Homo sapiens: one gene and its partners. The protein of the gene in region 1 purifies or fractionates together with the protein of each later gene. This does not show direct contact. Each region holds a gene or a part of one and is shown in the gene's direction. Other genes may lie near its edges.

Evidence for each region. The genes of interacting proteins can lie anywhere in the genome.
Region 2: the proteins of PMM1 (region 1) and VSIG8 purify together in Homo sapiens (affinity purification with mass spectrometry; 3 studies listed by BioGRID and IntAct, with this or other methods). This does not show direct contact.
Region 3: the proteins of PMM1 (region 1) and HEPHL1 purify together in Homo sapiens (affinity purification with mass spectrometry; 3 studies listed by BioGRID and IntAct, with this or other methods). This does not show direct contact.

Annotation. Positions count from the first base shown.
Region 1 is NC_000022.11:41,576,393-41,579,863, reverse strand, and holds the end of PMM1 (phosphomannomutase 1), read left to right. Parts: intron 1-982; coding exon 983-1,058; intron 1,059-1,940; coding exon 1,941-2,056; intron 2,057-2,423; coding exon 2,424-2,546; 3' UTR 2,547-2,964; downstream 2,965-3,471. UniProt on the Homo sapiens protein: Involved in the synthesis of the GDP-mannose and dolichol-phosphate-mannose required for a number of critical mannosyl transfer reactions. In addition, may be responsible for the degradation of glucose-1,6-bisphosphate in ischemic brain.
Region 2 is NC_000001.11:159,859,630-159,867,659, reverse strand, and holds the start of VSIG8 (V-set and immunoglobulin domain-containing protein 8 precursor), read left to right. Parts: upstream 1-5,002; 5' UTR 5,003-5,138; coding exon 5,139-5,187; exon of another isoform or gene 5,188-7,014; intron 7,015-8,030.
Region 3 is NC_000011.10:94,016,637-94,024,381, forward strand, and holds the start of HEPHL1 (ferroxidase HEPHL1 precursor), read left to right. Parts: upstream 1-4,717; 5' UTR 4,718-4,732; coding exon 4,733-4,902; intron 4,903-7,745. UniProt on the Homo sapiens protein: Is a copper-binding glycoprotein with ferroxidase activity. It oxidizes Fe(2+) to Fe(3+) without releasing radical oxygen species. May be involved in the regulation of intracellular iron content.

The DNA of each region.
Region 1 (3,471 bases):
CAGGTGACTTGCCCATGGTCACACAGCTGAGGAGTACAGTAGCCAAGCCTGGCTACTTGCCTTCAGATCTCAGGCTAGGGGGTGTCTGGCTTTATATCTGACATCCTCCCTGGGCCACTTCTCCAAGCTCCATGCTGCTGACCACTGCCTGCCTTTCCGCCCCAGTCCTACCCGGCTCTGACTACAGGGCCATACCAGCCACCCCACTCCTGTGCTCCAGAATCCTCAGCGCCTCTTGGTCCCCCAGGATGTGGTCAGACTTCCCAGCCCGGTCTCGAGACCCTCTGTCAGCTGAATGTCCTGCTGGCTGGTTTAGATGTTCAGCTGCCCCTCAGACTGGGCATAGCTGCTCCCCTTTGTGGCCCTCTGAGATGGAGATCCTGGGGGCTGGCGGGGAGAATGTCCCCCTGCTCCACGTTTGCGGAGCTGCTGCCAGAGTTCCTGCTCAGAGGGACGGGGCCGGCCTGGGCACTACCTAGTCCCCAGCCCAGCCGCGTCTTTGCATGCTGGGTGCTCTGCCATGCCTGGCATCCTGCTGCCCTCTGTGAATGCCCACAGCCACCTCCTCACAGGTCTCCTGCTCTCAGCTCCCATGCTCATTTCTGAGTATTTGCTTTGTTGAGCTGGTTACAGATAACAGGATCGAGCCCTGCCCTGAGGTGGACACTGATGTGGGATCCAGATTGCCCCGTCTCCTCGCCCTTCCTACTCGTGTCTCTCCTCTGAGGTCTCCTTCAGAAGACCCAGCCCACAGCCCCATTGGCAGCCCCATCCCTTCTGGATTTAGGCCCTGGCTCTGCCACCAGGGCTAGGTGACCTTGACCAAGGCACAACCCCTCTCTGAGCCTTAGTTTGCGCATCTGCACAGTTGGGGGTCCTACCCACCTAGAATGCTCAGCACGCTCACGTGGACTGTGTGCCCAGCCAGGGCCTGGCACACAGCAGGTCCTCTGAGCTGCCATCCGCTCCCTCCCCTCTGCAGAAAGAGAAGATCCGGGAGAAGTTCGTGGAAGCCCTGAAAACAGAGTTTGCTGGCAAAGGGCTGAGGTTCTCTCGAGGTACGTCCACCCTGCAGAGGACCTGGGAGGCCTGGTACAGGGCCCCTCCTCAAACCATCTGCCCCTGCCAAGACCAGGCTGTGGCCCCCAGTAGCTTTAGTAGCCCCTCCCCGGCTCAGGGCAGAGAGGGTGGCTGAGCCCGATGCAGAAAGGGGTTCAGTGTTTACTGGCCCCCAGTTTTCCCCACCTCATACCTCAGAGGTAAACGCCCCATGCCCACCCAGTTTCTCAGGCCAAAAAACCAGAGCCTCTCCCTTGAATGCTCTCCCCCACCCCTTCCCAAGTCCAAACTCCTAGAAGTCACAGGGCCCCCTGTCTGGAATCCCACCGGTGCTCACACTTCCACTGCCAGCAGCTTGTCCCAGGCTCCAACTGACCCTGACACAACTGGGCTCCCCTCTGCCACCTCACCCATTCCCCAGTGGCCAGAGAGGCTGGAGCTGGAGTCATGACATGCCTCTGCCCAAAGTCCTCCCCAGGCTCTTCCTCCCTCTCCATGTGATGCCCAGGGCCTGCCCGTCCTCCCCCTACCTCTCCTGGCCTCCTCCGTTGCTGGGACGCTCGTTCTCTTCCCTGCCTCAGGGGCTGTACTTTGCGCCCCAGCCATCCCCACTCGGCTCAGGTCCCAGCTCATTGCCACCTCCTCAGAGGTCTCCCCTGATCACCCTGGCCGGATGAGCTTCCCCCACCCACTTCATGGTCTTGTTCATTCTCCAACCTGTGTCATAACTTCCTTGAGGATCCTAAGTCTGTCCCGTGTCCTATTCCTGGCCCTCAGTAGGCACTCAAGGGTTGTTGAATGAATGAATGAACAAGCAGCCCTTCTGTTAGCCTTGTCTGCCCCTCCCAGCAGGGAATAACAGTCCCCACCCCTGCCCACAGGAGGCATGATCAGCTTTGACGTCTTCCCCGAGGGCTGGGACAAGCGCTACTGCCTGGATAGCCTGGACCAGGACAGCTTCGACACCATCCACTTCTTTGGGAACGAGACTAGCCCTGTGAGTGTGGCCCACCCCAGGTTTCCCCTAACGCAGTGGACAGTGAGAAGCCAGGTCTGGTGGCTTCTCCAATGCAAATCACCTGAGGTCAAGGCCAGAACATGGGGCAACACAACAGACCTCTTAGGGGGCTCCTGGAGAACAACCATTGCTCACCAGCCCCGTTACACAGATTGGAAAGCTGGGGCCCCAAGAGGCTGGGCACTTGTTCTACATCACACAGCAAGTCAGGGCAGGTCTGACAAGGGGTGAGAAGGTGGGCTTCCTGGCAGTTCTGAAGGGGCAGGAGGAGGGGCAGGTCCGTAGCAGCCAATGTGGAGAGGGACTCCACCTAAATATCCCTCCTCTGCCCATCCTCTGTGTGCAGGGTGGGAACGACTTTGAGATCTTTGCCGACCCCCGGACTGTTGGCCACAGCGTGGTGTCTCCTCAGGACACGGTGCAGCGATGCCGGGAGATTTTCTTCCCAGAGACAGCTCATGAGGCGTGACCGGGGCCCACATCTGTGTGTCGTGACTTCTGAAGAGTTTGGCCTAGGCCTAAAGAGAGGTCCTGGTGTTGGATAGATGCCAGGGCCCCTCCTCTGGCCCAGGACGCCTGCTGCAAGCCCACCCAGATGGGGCCAGAGTCTGTGTGGACAACCGTCCCCAGCCAGTCTGCTCCTAGTGGCACTGGCTTCGTCCTCCCAGGGCCCAGAGTGTTCCCCATGCTCCACCTGGTGGCCCAGGCCACAGCTGCTGCTTGTATTTCGGTACAGAAGAGGTTTCTTTCTGCACCAGGAGGAGGCGTGCTCAAGTATCGGTACGAGATCTAGCCTGCCCTGCCTGCCTGCCCTGGGCGATGAGGTACGGTGGGGAAGGTGCCTATTTTAGAGAACTTTGTCACAGTATTAAAGTTCCCAGAACAAAGTAGGTGTCAGCTGTGTCTGAATGGATAATTGGCCCCAGTCACATGCTGTCACAGCCACTACTTTGCCGACAAGTAAACAGCACAGAGAGGGCAGGGACTTGGCCCAGGTCACAAAGGAAGTCTGATGCAGTCGAGGAGGGGGCCATTGAATCCCCAAAGAAGAGCTGGTTTGGTGTGTCCACCCCCAGCCCCTTCCTTGGGGACCCTGACACAGAGGCAGCTTCAGGCCACGGTGGGTCACAGTTGAGGGTTTATTGCCAGTGTTAGGAAGAATGGGGGGTCTGGGTGGCCAGGGGTCTTGGGAGGAATTCCAAATGAGCACTGCAGGGCCTGTGAGTGGGGAGGAGAGCTGCTGCCCCCCTGCCACCCAGGAGGCCCCAGGGCTGATGCCACCATATCCTGACTGCTAGTGGTGCCTTAAAAGGTGGCCTCCCCACAGGAGGGGAGCCTTGGGGGCCCCCAGGAGTCAGCCCTCACCAACAAGCCCTCTCTCAAGGGGGCCAGGG
Region 2 (8,030 bases), on another chromosome or scaffold:
TCTACAAATTAAAATGTCAAAGTCCCATTGGACCTGTGGATTAATTCATCTCAAAGTTTCTCTCCCCATAAACAGACAGACTCATGGTTCAGGACAATCAATTTTAGTTGCTTAATCCACCCGATGGCCTGGCTCTGATCCCAGTGAGGTGCTCTGGTGTTCTGGGTAGAAGGTCCCAAGAGGTTCCGTTCTCAAGGATCTTCCTTCCTCAGTTAAAAAATAATCGTCAGCTGTCACTCCTGGCTTTGCTCTTCTCAGTCCATGTCTGGCAGGGACCTGGCTTACTTACCAAGCCCAGAAATATTCCCCTGGCCTCCTCTCTCCACCCGCTACTCTTTTCTCTGGCACGCCGTTGTTAGTTATCCTTCAGATCTCGGCTTAAACATCATTGCCACTAAGTCAGGGGCCTTGCACGTATTACTGCATCTTACCACATTGCGGGCCAGGAGCTATTTCCGTGTCAGATGGGGTGTTCTGTGAGGATAGGGACTGAGTCTCCTTAATTGCCATTTCCCCAGGGCCTAGCACAAAGCCTGGCTGTTTGCTGAATGAATGAAGGTTCTGCAGGATGTGGTTGATCTTGGCGAGGTGAAGATACCTTTATCTTCAAAGCCTCTTCATTCTTCCTCAGATCTGTCATCAGGGAATCACATAGCCTTTACAAGCGATTTCTTCTCGCCTCCACTCATTCTCTTGCTAACAATTCAGTTGGTGGCATTCAATCGCCTCCCTTTGCTCTTGTGCTTTGTTGATGTAGTGACAACTCCAGCCACTCCTTTAATTGATGGGGACTATGTGTGTGCTGCTTGCTCTTCTGAGTCTGTCAGCTTCAGGACATTGCTTGATGGGAGAGATGTGGGCATATCCAGGCTCCTCCTAGAATCCCACTTCTTCTGAAGTGTACCAGTCAGAACCACTGAGGTTTGGGAAACCTAAGCAGGAGCTTGGGGAGTCCCTGTGTCACCTGTGTTCACGGCTCTTCCCTGCCAGCTTTGATTTGAGCCTTAGTTTCGAACCCAACCCACACCCTCAAACTTAGCCCCACATGTCGATCTCATCCCTCTCTGTAACCAGAATCCGACGTTGTCCCATCACCACCCATGCAACCTCTGAGCCCCCTGCCCTTCTCATGCAACCATGGCCTCACCTGGCAGACCTCCACCTCCAAATCATCACTGAAAGCTGGGTGGACAGACAGCAGCTGCAAGGCTCCTTGGCTTCTCTGTGACTCTTTGCCTATCCATTGTCACTCACAGCTTCTGCTCCCAGAGTCTTACCTCAGAGGTTTCCTCTGCAGGACAGCTCCTCCCTGGGTGCTGCAGGGTGAGCCCTGGGCTACATGGGGACTTGGGAGAGGGGGCTGAGGAGCTTGCTGACTGTGTGGGGAGGAGTTTAGAATGAGTCAAATTGCAGTGCCAGCCAAGGCAGGGGTTGTGGGGAGCTTGATTGAGCCTGAGCCCAGGGAGTCTGGCGGCCACTGAGAGGGGTTGGGGTGGGCAAGTACAGGCAGGGGAGGGCAGGGCTTAGAGGAGTGGGGTGGAGTTGCCATGAAAGGGACTTTGGAGGAAGAATAGGCTTTGGAGGAAGAGTAGGCAGCCCAAGCCCTCTGTCCGTCCTTCCCAGAAAGGTTCTGGGGCTGGGCTGCACTTCATCTGGTAAGCAATCTGTGGCCTTCTCTGAGTTTTTGTCCAGCCTCTTCCTACCTCCTGTATCTCCCTGTTTACTCCTTTCTAAGCCAGTCTTTGATTTTCTGTTACTGTCTTAGAATAGAAGCAAATACCAGTCAAAGCAGGGCCATTCTTCCCTGGAGAGTCATGGATTTCTTAGGAAAAAGCAAGGGGCCCTTTTGGAAATTTGTATTGGTTCCCAGCTCGTGGCCTGGGCCCTCTGCCTCCTCTGTATCCCTCTGAGTCTCTGGAGGGGCCATTTAGACCATGTGTCTTTCTGTCTGCCTCTGTCCCTGTCTCTGTCTTTGCCCCTTAACTCATCACTATCTCTCCCAATCTCTTTCTTCTCTCTCTCTGGGGTCACAGGGGGAACCCCAGTAGTCTCCTGGACCAGACCTTTATAAAACCTGAAAAGGAAGTGGGTGGGGAAATGAGATGTTTGGGCTGGAGACTGGTTGGGGAAAAATGAGAGGGAGGAATTGGGACGGGGTCTTCCTAGGAGTGGGGCCCTCTTCCACTGCTGAGGATAAGGCCCAGAGACTTACACGGACTGTGAGCTGGGCCCAGAGGGAGGGGACTGTAGGACTGTGACATATGCTTTGGAAACTATGCTGACACCCCAGTGCCTTCACCCCATCCACAGCCTCCCCACTGCTGCCCTCCCTGAAAACCCTGCAGGGCTCAGGGTTTAGGGCTGGAAGGCTGACAGCTTCTTTTATAGGACTCAAATTGCAAGAAGGTAGCAATTAAGCCTCAGAGGGTCAAGGGGAAACAACAATGGCACTCTGCCCTTTCAGGCTTTGAAAGACCCCCATGTGGTGCCCCATAAAGTGGCTGTTCTAGGAGCATGTAGGCCCTCAGTTTCTCCCAACTCCCATCTCCTAAGGACTCCAAATCCAGACCACCCCTCCTCCCCACTCAGTAAGACTCCCTCTGATGGACCCCATCTTCTAGTTCGGTTTGGTGTCAGAGCCCAACTCATTGTCAGTAGCTTCCTGCGTCTCCTCCCCAGATGTTTTTCTGGAGCTTGGCCAGGTGGTGAGCTTTAGTAGTGGAGCAGGACTTCAGAGGGTCCATTCTCTATGGGATTTAGTTGCCTCATACCCCTTAGATGGGCTCGTGTACATTTGGCTTCCTCCTCCAAGTCTTGGGACCCCAATCAACATGTGCCATTAGTAGTCTCCCCGCACTAAGGATTGAAAATTCTAGCCAAACCTGGATTTAGCAGATGGAGGCTGAAGTCTTTCTATATTAGAAATAAAACCTCATCTTTGATCCCCATCAACTCCCGCTGCTTACGTGTCTTTAAACCATGTTCCAACCCTAACCACAGCCTATTTCAATGTGAATCTCAAACTTAGTTCTAACCCAATGCTAAATCAATCTAAACCCAGCCTTTGATTTAGCCCTAACTGTATTCCCAGGCAGAGCTGTAAATGAAACTAAAACTCTATTCCTTATCGTAACACAAATCCCAGCCATAAACCTGAGCCTCAATTCTAGCTGTATTTCTAACCCTAATCCCAACCTTAACTCTAATCCCAACCTCAAATCTGACCTCAACCTCATTCATAATTCAACTAACCCCAAACTTAACCCCAGCTCTAACATTAGCCCACATCCAGAACCCAATTAAATCTGAAGCCTGCACTGTAGTTTAGTGGAACCACAATGTTACTGCTTTCTCCTCAATCTCTCTGTTCGTGGTCTGACCTGTTTTCCCTCCCACTCACCCTGACCTTCCATGGTTCTTGTTCGTGAGTGGGTCTAGTAATCCACAGGATCACCAAGACCATTTTTTGGACCTCTCTGGACTGACACCCTGGGTACCTGGGTATCCCAGCTTAGGCACCAGCCGCATTGGCTGAATCCCCATGTTTCTCCAGGTCTCTGTTTCCCCATCTGTAAAATGGGGATAATGATCCCTGCTCTTCAAAGGGAGCAGGACAATCCCATAAACCTAAAAATAAATAAGGAAATAAAGATATTCATTGTGTACATCTGGTAGGTCTCAGAGCGCCCTGTTATTGTTGGGAGTTCAGGTGCAACGGCTTGGAATGCAGAGACGCGTGGACTCCTTGTGTTTCCTTAATGTTCTGACTTATTTTTCCCCAGAGGGGTGGGCCCTGGCAGCATCCCTGAGCCCCATAACTCTCCCTAACACTCTTCCTCCTCTGCCCTTTCTGTGCCCCATGGTAGGGATGGGGGCAGTCCCTGACTCCTTTGAGGGAGTTGAGCTATTGAATGGGGTCACTCATGTCCTGACTCCCACCATGGAGTCCAACAAGGCACATGCCCATTCTGTCCCCCTTAGACAAGCCAACAAGGGGTGGCCCTTCACTTGCTCCCCATGCCTACCAGGACCCTCCCCACCCCAGCACGAACTTACCCAGAACTGTGCTGGTTTAGTCAGCCCGATGACCAGTCCAGGTTATGAGGGTCCTTGGTCTCAAGGACCCAGTTAATACTGGGACTGCATTAACCCTCAAGACCTGGCTACTCTTTCTGGGCAGAGAAGCCAGGACACCAAGCGATCCCTCAAGAAGTTCACTCAGAGGGGCTTAGCCATCCTCACAGAGACACCCTGACACAGACATCCTGCCTCCCTCCCACAGACATTGCTGAGGGGTGCACACGCTTACACAGGCACCCCCTTCCCTGGTCCTCTTGGCGCTGTTCTCTCCAACACTCCCTCACTAGCCCATCAGTCACCTTACTCCTAGCACACACCCTGGACCCCCCATAGCACCCCTGCTCCCAGGGGTCCCCTACACTTGGGGATGGCCTTGAGTCGAGTATGGGTGTGGAGGACAGTTCCAGAGGGGACAGCCAGGAGGAGACTCTGTTCCTGCACACACCCCTTCTCTCCTCTTTCAGCTCAGGAGGCCTGAGTCCCTTTGAAAGGCCTGAAGCCTGGGGGAAGGTGGGCTGGACACTCCTGGGGAACCCTATGCCCTGGGATCAGGATTAACTCTTCAGGTCCTGGCCACTCTTTCTCCCAAGCCTGGCTTCTCCTTCCTCTTCCCCACTTCCCCCAGGGAAGGAGGCAGCAAATGAGTGGTGAGGGGAGCCCTTGGAAGCTGTAAATGAGGTGACTGTTGTCACCCTGAGGATGTGGCCAGGAGGAAGTGAAGTTTAACAGGTGCCTAATTACAAGTCCCGCTGGCTGTCCTGTGCCACTCTTAGGACAGGGAAGAGCTTGGGTGAGGGCTGGGTAATGCCCAGGTAGGCCACCCTGTCACCCTGCTAATTAGGGTTCCTGGGACTCCTCCCCAAGGCGGGGACCAGGCCCCCTCCCTCCCATAGAAATAACTCCAGCTGCTCCCCAGCTGGGCACTCATTGCACCTTCCTGCCACCCCAGGCAGTGTCTGGGCCCTCAGCTCCCCCTCCCTCCACCTACCCCCTCACACCCACCACTACGACCCCACGGGATACCCAGCCCAGACGGAGGAAACACCGAGCCTAGAGACATGAGAGTTGGAGGAGCATTCCACCTTCTACTCGTGTGCCTGAGCCCAGGTACGGGGCTGGGCAGGGGGCAGGGTAGCCAGCATGAGGCTAGGTGGGAAGGAAAGGGGCAGCAAGGGCTCACAGTGGAGCCTGGGGCTGCCTGAGTTGCCTGGCAGGGTGCTGCCCACCCTTGCCCTGCTGCAGCCGGGTGTGGGTATTACCAGGGGACCTTTCCCCAGGAGACCCTGTGCCTGATGTTCAGGGTGTGTGTCTGTAGTGCAGAGGTCTTTGAGTGGATCTTTATATGTCCCCTGTCGGGCTCACACATGTGTGCAGGTGCCCTGCAAGCTCATGCCGTGACTAGGAGGAGAGGGATTGATTGCTCTGCAGGAGCTGGAGGTGGGGTAGGAGAGGGGTAAGCACGGGCATTGGGTGAGGGCTCAGGAGGAGCTTGGGAAGGATCAATTTTCATCAGACTGTGTGCTATTCCCAACGCTACTCCTTCTCTCCCAAGGCCAGGGCCAAGGGGCAGGGAAGTCACTTGCCTTGAAAGGGCAAGAGACTAAGTCTGGTGTAAGTCTGAGTGGTTTCTTCCATCATGGCCAGTGACAGCTCAGGCCTGAGACCTCAGCCTTGGGCCCCCTGTGCTATGACAGGGCAGTGCCCCACTCTAGGATGAGGCCTGAGGGTGGTGGGGATGGCAACTCCAGAGACTTCTCACCCCACCAGGACAGGTCCACAGGGCAGGGCTCAAGTTTGGACATTGTGGCTTCCTGCCCAGGTTGGGGCAAGTTCCACCAAGGGGCATTCTATGCCAACATCACTGGAAAGGGCTCCGAGTCCCTCTTGCAGTCTGGATTTGGGATGAAGGGGCATGAAGGAGGAATTTGGGAAGGCGGGGTGACATTTTCAGCCTTTGTGTGAGCGTGAATGTGTATGTGAGTGTGTGGGTGCGTGCACCTGCATGGGAATGATGACATTTCCGGCAGGATAGCTGCAGCCCTTCTCTGTCTGATGAGAGCAGGGCTGGCAGAGTCCACTCGGGAGGCTCCAGCTGTGCTGTGGGGACCCGGACTTCCCCCTGTGTGGTGTGTCAATGGGTGTGTGAGGACAACTCAGCACTGGCTGCATTAACGCATCAATACCCTCAGCTGGAGCCGCCTTTTCTCCCCTCCCTTACCTCCAGAGGGAAGATCAGGAGTTCTGGAAGCACCTTGAAGATTCAGAAAGAATTTGCAAGCAGAGAGTAGGCACCACTATTGAGATGACACCCCGTAAAGCATGGCCAGTTTCTGGTGCTTTTGGGGGGCAAAGAATCACCACTGTCCTCTTCCTTGGAGAGCCCATGTGATTCCTCCATTCCTGTCTCTCCTCAAGTCTCCCATCCAGCTCTCTCTTCCACTTTGCCTTTCTTCCCTCTCTCCAGCCTCTCCTCTCACATTCCCTGTAGTACTTCCTTAGTGCTACAGCAAGAGGAATCAAGGTGAGACATTAGGAGCAACTTCCCAAGGAGAGGGAGGGGTGCGGAAAGGCTGGAACCCTTGGGAGGAGGTTGAGAAGACTTCTAAGGAGATAGAAAAGCTGGGTGAGGCTCCCTGGTCTGGGACAATTGAAGAATCTCTCAGCCTGGTGCAGGGTGGAGGTGCTTTTCTTGCAGCCTGTCGCTCCTTCCCAAGCCCCTCTCCCTGAATGCTTACCATCCTGCCTGGCAGGCTCCTATGGCATGGAGAGAGTCCTTCCTGTGTGGGTGCTTCCAGCGGTGCTTCTCCAGGGTGGAGCCTCTGCTCTCAGCCGAGTTCTGGCTCATCCCTGGCTTGCCTTGAGCAGCCTCAGGATCTGGCAGATGGCAGCAGGATCCTTATCTCAGGAATGAGCTGTTGTTCTCTTGGCCTGGAGCTGGAAGAGGCATCACTAGGTCCCGTTAGAGCCCCAGCAGTCAGCCTGCCTGCTCTGGGTCACCTTGGAGTCTAGCTGGGTTATGACAGAGCTGATGGCCCAGCCAGTGTTCCTAGGGGGGATGTTCAGGGATCCCTGAGCTGTTGAGGGTGTTGAAAGGGCCCTTGCTGGCCTCTCTGGAGCCAGGCTAAGCCTTCCTGGCAGGGCTTCCATAGATATGTCTGGTCTTGAATGAACACATACAGGGACTATATGAACACACGGTGGGTGTGTCTTTTGAATTAATATGTTCTGTGTTTGTGTGCAGATTGTGTCTGTGTCTGAATGAATCTATATAGTGTCTGTGTTTGTAGGAAGGTGGGGCCATATAGGTATGTATCTGCATTTTGAAGCCTTGTAAGAGTGGGCCACGTGCCGATTTGTTTGCCTGTGATGGTGTAATTGTGTGTGTGCATGTGTGAGATCTCTATGTGTAAACATGGTCCTGAGCCACATGATAGAACAGAATGATTGCTGAGACCTGGGGCTGTGACTCCAGAAGACATGTTGACTCAAAAAAGAACGCAGACGGAGAGTGTGTGAGGCCTGGTGAGGGGCCTGCAGAGGCAGGGTTGCTGGAGACTGGGAGGTGGAGGGCAGAGTGTCCAGGGTGGGGCCCTGGCTACACCCCCCGGTCTTATCCCTCTCTAGGTCCAACCGGTTGGGGATAGGCCTGCCTGGGGCTTCAGGGTAGGGAGGGACAAGAGCTCAGTCCTGAGCTCCTGGGTCCTGGGATCCTGGCTCCTCACCCAGGATTGCCTGCCACTGACTCAGTGGCAGGAGGGGCCTCACTGGAAGCCAGCTTGTGGGGGCAGCTGCATGCGAGCCACACAATCACATAAGAGGAAGCACACACAGTACGCAATGCTGTGTAGTCAAGAAAGACTCACAATGTCCTACAGATACCTGTGGCCATAGTCCCAGGCACACACCATCACTCACTATCACACACGAACACAGCCAGGCTCCTGGTCACA
Region 3 (7,745 bases), on another chromosome or scaffold:
TGACTTTAAGTTGAAGCCAGTGCTCATTTACCATTCCAAATGTCCCAGGACCCTTAAGAATTATGCACAGTCTACTCTGTCTATACTCCCTAGATGGAATAATAATGTCTGGACAACAGTACATCTGTTTGCAGCATGGTTTACTGAATATTTTAAGTCCAGGGCTGAGACTTACTGCTAAGAAAAAAAAATTCTTTCAAAATATTACTGCTCATTAACAACGCACCTAGTGACCCAAGAGCTCTGACGGAAATGTATAATGAAATGAATGTTGTTTTCATGTCTGCTAACACAACATCCATTCCGTATGTCATAGATCAAGGAGTAACTGAATTTCAATCTTATTACTTGAGAAATACCTTTCTTGAGGCTATAGGTGCCATAGATAGTGATTCCTCTGATGAATCTGGGCAAAGTAAATTGAAAACCTTCTGGAAATAATTCACCATTCTAAATGCTGTTAAGAATATTTGTGATTCATGAGAGAAGGTCAAAATATCAACATTGACAGGAGTTTGGAAGAAGCTGATTCAAACCCTCATGGATGACTTTGAGAGGTTCAAGACTTCAATGGAGGAAGTAACTGCAGATGTGGTGGAAGCAGCAAGTGAACTACAATTAGAAGTGGAGCCTGAAGATGTGACTGAATTGTTGCAATCTCATAATAAAATTTACATGAATAAGGTGTTGCTTCTTATGGATGAACAAAGCAAGTGGTTTCTTGAAATGGAATTTACTGGTGAAGATGCTGTGAATATTGTAGAAATGACAACAAAGGATTCAGCATATTACATAAACTTAGTTGATAAAGCAGGAGCAGGGTTGGGAAAATTTATTCCAATTTTGAAAGAAGTTCTTTTATTGGTAAAATACTATTAAACAGCATCATGGGTTATAGAGTAATCTTTCATGAAAGGAAACCAAATGATGTGTCAAACTATTGTTCTTATTTTAAGAAGTTGCCACAGCCACCTCAACCTTCAGTGACCACCATCCTGATTAGTCAGCAGCCATCCACATTGAGGCAAGACCCTCCACAGCAAAAAGACTGACTCACTGAAGACTCAGGTGATTGTTAGCATTTTTAAACAATAAGGTATTTTTAAATTAAGGTGTGTACATTTTTTAGACATAATGCAATTGCACACACACTTATAGACTGTAATATTGTGTAAACATAACTTTTTTTTTTTTTTAGATAGGGTCTCCTTCTGTCAGTGAGGCTGGAGTGCAGTGGCATGATCTTAACATACTACAGCCTCGACCTCTTGGGCTCAAATGATCCCCCCACCTCAGCCTCCTGAGTAGCGGGGACTATAGGTGCACCCCACCATGCTTGGCTAATTTTTTTGTATTTTTTATGGTGACAAGTTTTGCCATGTTGCCCAGGCTGGTCTCAAACTTCTGGCCTCAAGTGATCCTCTCACCTTGGCCTCCCAAAGTGCTGGGATTACAGGTGTGAGCCACTGTACATGGCCTAAGCATAAGTTTTATACGCACTGGAAAACCAAAAAATCCATGTGATTCGCTTTATTTTGATATTCACTTTATCATGGTGGTCTGGAACCACACCTGCAATATCTTCAAGGTGTGCCTGTACCATAATTTCAATAAAATGTGATTTAACCCAGCATTATCTTTCTCTGCTATTGATGCATGATGTCAAATTTACCTTATCTGAAACCTGGTGAATGTTTTGAGGAATGGAGTGAATATTTAGAACTGGCCATCTCACATAATAAATGCTTGATAAATGGGTTTCTTGACTTTAAAAAAATGTCTGACTAGTGTTCAATGGAGTTGGAAGTATTTGCTAACATTATTACTTACACAGGTTACTTAATCAAATTTTAAACATTGTCAAACATATCTTGTATGTAACTGTGGGTTTTTAAAAATGAGTGTTGATATGATAATTCACAGGTTTCCTAATAAAATTTAGACACTGTCAAACACATTGGGCGTGGAACTGTCGCTTTTCTGAAATGAGTGTCACAGGAACACTGCATTGTCTCATACCAGTTTATTTTCTTTAGCTCCTATGGCATTCCAATGCTCTTTGAGTAACACCTTTATTGTCCTAGGATAAGGAAGAATTTAAGAGAGCTTTCCAGAACCCTATTTCATTGTTTTTAATAAATTCTTTCCCACTTTTGGCCCTCTGTAAGCAAGTTCTCTGCTACAAATAGATTAAATGCGTTGACTTCATCTGCTATAGTGACTCAGATTTCTTGACCTGATCTATTCTGCAGATCTAGTTTTTGAATCAGAAGTTAGGTAATGCCTTCTCCTGGGTTTTAATTATATGCGTTCAGTATCTTGGGTAAGAAAGTTAACTCTTTTGTCTTTTTGAGCTGTATCACTTATACCTTTTTTTTTCTCCTGTCCAAAAAGGGGGGAATATGTCCTAATAACGTCTTTGATACGCCCAAAATAGCCAGCTTCTCTGGGATGTAAGCAACAAGATATTTGGTTTGGGACATTTCCAAATTCCACAACCTTTTTTTTTTTTTTTTTTTTTTTTTTTTTTTTTTTTGTGAGACAGAGTCTCGCTCTATCATCCAGGCTAGAGTGCAGTTGTGAGATCTTGGCTCACTGCAACCTTTGCCTCCAGGGTTCAAGAGATTCTCCTGCCCCAGCCTCCCTAGTAGCTGGGACTACAGGCATGCACCAACATGCCCGGGTTATTTTTGTATTTTTAGTAGAGACAGGGTTTCACCATATTCGGCAGGCTGGTCTCGAACTCCTGACCTCAGGTGATCCACCCACCTCGGCCTCCCAAAGTGCTGAGATTATAGGCATTAGCCACTGCGCCTGGCCAGATTCCCCATACTTTGAACTCCCTACTTCTTCTGAGGCCAACCTCAGGCCTACCACGTAAGTCCTCCTCTATAGTGTCCGTTGAAGTGCCAGACTCATACGAAGCTCCCAAACTCATGTTGAAGAGGAGATTTTAGCTAAATGGAAATGTGCTGTGGCAATTATTCTACCAGTGTCCTTGATACAACAAACAAATCAGTAAATCAAAGTTGTAAAGAGCCTGGCTATGAAACAGGATACTCAGTATGTATTTTATTATTTATTTATTTATTTATTTACTTATTTTGAGAAGGAATCTTGCTCTTGTTGCCCAGGCTGGAGTGCAGTGGCACAATCTTGGCTCACTGCAACCTCCACCTCCCAGGTTCAAGCGATTCTTCTGCCTAAGCCTCCCAAGTAACTGGGATTACAGGCGCCTGCCACTACGCCCGGCTAATTTTTGTATTTTTAGTACAGACAGGGTTTCACCATGTTGGCCAGGCTGGTCTCAAACTCGTGACCACAGGTGATCTGACTGCCTTGGCCTCCCAAATTGCTGGGATTACAGACCTGAGCCACCGTGCCTGGCCTTTTATTAATTAAGATGAATGCTAATACAAACTGTGCTATGGGACATTTATAGGGTAGCTACCATTTAAAGAAAAAGAATTCTCTTACTTGAGACTGGTGGAAGGCATGGCAGATAGGACTTTGGCAAAGAATAGTGGAAAGAAAGTTGAAGACTGCGGGGAAACACAAGTCTGTGGATACACAGGTTGATACAGTCTCTCTTAGAGGGCATGAATGGGCAGGAAGGACTTTAACACTTACTTAGTACCTACCCTATGCTAGGGGCTGGGGTAAGCACTTTGCAGACATCATCTTTTAAAAAGTTCCTTAAGAATCCCTCAATCCTTCTTCTATAGTCTCCAGCTCAATGATGTTAAGTGATTCCTCCATGCCACTAAATTGGAAAGTGGTGGGAACTCACATTCAAACCCAGGTCTGACCAACTTCAAAGGCCAGGAGGCTGTTTCCTTCATTCCATGGCTGCTCCCTCAAGAGTAACTGTGCATGGGGATAAGAGTAACTCTTTTCCAAGGTTGATCAAGGTCTCTTTCAATACCGAGATTCTGGGACACAGATTAGAAGACACAGAAGAATGGCCCAGCCTTTTCCACCCAAAGACCTGTTACTGAATTTTGTCTCCATGTGTCTGAAGGGTACTTCCCCATCATCATTTTCATTCATCCTAAGAAAGGCGGCTCCCTGTGTGGAGGTGGTGGCCGCGAACATTTTGGCTGAACTGAGCAGTCAACCTTCTCATTTTTGCTGGAAGGATTTGAGAGAATATGGGGGAGATGGTACACGAGCCAGTGGAGGATTAGTGGGGTTTTATGTTGTTGTGATGAACTTTATGATGTTAGTTTGTGGTTTCACATAGCCTCATAAAACAAGCTGGATGGTGATTATGTCACTTCCTCTGCCCTCCCGACAGAGAGGAGGCCTTCTTTAGTGCCTGGAGTGTTTCCTGATGCTCCACTCAGGCCAGCTCACTTTTCAGATTTTAATGTAAGAGGTGTGGAGAAGAAAAGAAGAAGAAGGGGTGGGGGAAAGCCATCGGCTCAAGTAGTCACACTGTCATCCTGGCTGACAAATGACTGATGTCAGAGCATGGTACCGAAACGTATAGAAACAGGCCTGTTGGCTTGGGCAATACATAAATGAGCCAGTCACACATTTCTCGGATGGCTGGCAAAAGTTTTGTTGTCAAAGCAACGCCCCCATCGAGCTTGCTTTGCTTACGCAAGGCCTCAGCCTTTGCCTCTTCCCCAAACCCAAGCTACCTGAGGAGGAGGAGCTGAGTGAGGGGGAGGGACCAACAGATTTGTCCCCTGTGCAGGCTGCCTGCCTGCTTGAGTTACATCCACAAATGCCTCGGAAGCAGCCAGCTGGCTGCATCTTTCTCCTCACATTCCTGGGTCTGTCTGGGCTGGTTGGCACAGTTACCAGAACGTACTACATTGGGATTGTGGAAGAATACTGGAACTATGTACCCCAAGGGAAGAATGTTATTACTGGGAAAAGTTTCACAGAAGACAAGTGAGTGAACTTAGGGTCCTCATTGACTCCCAGGTTTGGCCTCTTTTTGACTTTGTGTGGGGAAGGTTGTATTTCTTGGGTACTTACAATGGGGGTGAGTTGATCTAGACCAAGAGAAGGTGTTTTGTTTTTTGCTTGAAGAGCCCTAGTATGGATGGGTGTGTAATCTGGAAGAGATATTCATAGCTCCATGTATTTGTTGAGCCACCTATTAATAGCCTTGCCTGTGAAGGGACATATACACAACCAGGTGTTTGACAATTTCCACCAGGTACTACTAGTAACTTCTGGGGGATTCTGTTTGTTTGTTTGTTTTTAAATGACAACACTTGGGATGAAGATTTGAGAAATTTCAAGAATTCCTTATGGTTAAAACACAGTGTTTTCTTAGTTTGTATTTCTGGAATGAAACATCATAATGGGAGATAAGTATGCTAAGTCATGTTTTTCAACGTTTAAAAGAGGGGGAAGTCACAGGAGATTTGCCTGCTATTTTCAGGGTTTCCTTGAGTCTACTTAGAATTAGCGCTTTCACTGGTAAAAAGTTTATTCCAGCTCCAAGTCATTCTTGCTGAGGGCAATATCTTATCCCAGAACCTATAGCATAGCTAGGTGAGATGGCGCCACGGTGTTCTATGTTCCTGATTTTTAATTTGGGGCAGAAAATAACCCTTTCTCCCTGCCCCCTCCAGGGCCTAGTATCTTAACCATCTAATTTGTTTCATGGATCTCCCTCTGAAGTCACCTCCTGACTCCAGAAGATGTCATGCTATTTTCAACTTTGTGGTTATTAGAACATCTTTTCAGATGTTTTGGCAACCTCTGTTGGATATTTGAATGCTTGCTTCTTTTCTGACAGGCAGAACCAGTTGCATTCTGCATCCATGTTCCATTTCCTAAAGATGAGTTTAGTTGATAAAATTCAGGAACAGCACAGGGCCTACCAGCAAGTCTTTAAGAGCCAGGGCCCCTTGTCTTTGAGGAAAGACCAAAGATCCAGTTGGCTTGGAAATACAGCTTCCAAGTTTTCTAACAAAACAAAGGTGGTATAGTCATGTTTTGTTTACCAAAGATGAAGCCTGTGCCAGACAAGCTGCCAAGGCAGACTTTTCCTTAAGCTTTGTACCTGGAAATGTAATGTCTGCAGGGCTATTTCCAAAGGAAACTCTTGATTGCTTTCAATCCCACATCTGCTGACCATTGGTGGTAGTGTCTTTACTGTGATGAATAGCTATGGGATTGAAAGGGTACCAAAAATGCCAGGAGCCTTCTCTACAAATAGAGCTCTGCTATTCTCAGAGAGGGCTCAGTAGGAAACAGTCAATGTGAGCAGCTACTGGGGATAAGAATGTTGAAAGTGTGTACACTGAGTGTAATGAATATAGCGTTTAAGCTAAATGTGATACTGGATTGCCTTTCCATAAGATTAACACCCACAGAAATTCTTCTTCCTAAAATGCCCACGTCACTATAGCTGTGTATGGGCATTTATTCTGACCCAAAAATTCTATGAGGGATTTTTCAATTCATTACTGCTTGCAGATATTATTATTCTCATTTTATGAACCAGGAACCAAGGCTCTGAGGTTAAATACTTGCCGGAGTTTATAAGTAAGTGGTAGCACCAAACTCATTGCTTTGGTTCCACAGCCCATATTTCTTTTCACCACACAATCTGTTTCTTGGTAAAGGTGATCCTTCTCCAGTGAATTAAAACAACTTTGAGGGAAGCCAAGGATCACAGTAATAAGAACTTTCTAGAAAGTCCTAATTTTTGCCAAAGGCATGTTTAGTCTCTTTTGTCACTCTTCCTAGAAGCATATTGAAAGGGATCACTGGTGGTCAGTGACCAAACAAGTTATCTGGGTTAATTCAAAACCTCAAAGAATCATAAATACTCAAGTACTACAATGCTGTTTTCACAAAGTGGGGTGCTGGAAGAAGTTGGGGTCTCTGTTGATCATTTCAACCAGAAGATGGTGCTTTGATGAAAGTACAATAAAACATATAAAAATTGCTATGGTGAAAAAGAAAATAGGCATGATGAAAACAGTTGGTTTGGCATCAGATTTGAGTGAGATGGTTTCAAAATGCATGGTCCCATATGATAGTGCGTTTGTTCTTAGAAGCAGCTGGCATGCTAAGGTGTCATACCTAGAACGCCAAGGTCCCCAAACATTTCTTTCTGGTATGCGAAGGGACAGAGTTTGTGTCAGACAGACTGCTACCTCTTGGAAGGGAAATCCAGGTGAGTATGCAGTGGACGTTGGCTTTTATCAGTGATCCCATCAGAATACTGGTTTTTATCAGTGATCCCATCAGTGCTAGTAGTTGTGGTAGGTGGCTCAGACAAGTTCCTAAAAAGGTAGGGCTGTCGTAGGTGGCTGACATTGCTTGTGGACCACAAGATATCCATCCTGGGTGTATGTGAAGATGCTGTGACTGGGACATAAGTGGAGTTCAGTGTGTGTACTCTGTGTTGTGCCATTTCCCCAGGAGCAGGAAGGAGCCATCGTGGATGATGTAATCATGCCCCTCTCTCAGCCTCCTGGAGGGTGAATAGGCTGCCTTTCTGAGGACAGTCTGTTGTTTTGGATATTCACACTTGGGCAAATGTCTGATATTTAAAGGACCAGGAGAGCCAGGTGCTCAGAATTCCACCATGAATGGAAAGAACCTGAAATAGAAATCCAGAGACCTAACTTCTAATGCTTGCTCTGCCCAACTTGCTGTGTAATCTTGAACATGTCATATAATCTCTCTGAATATCACTTTCCTTAATTTGTGTAAGAAGGGAGTTGAAATGTAATCCCTAGAGTCACTTGAGAAGTGTAATGCCAAAG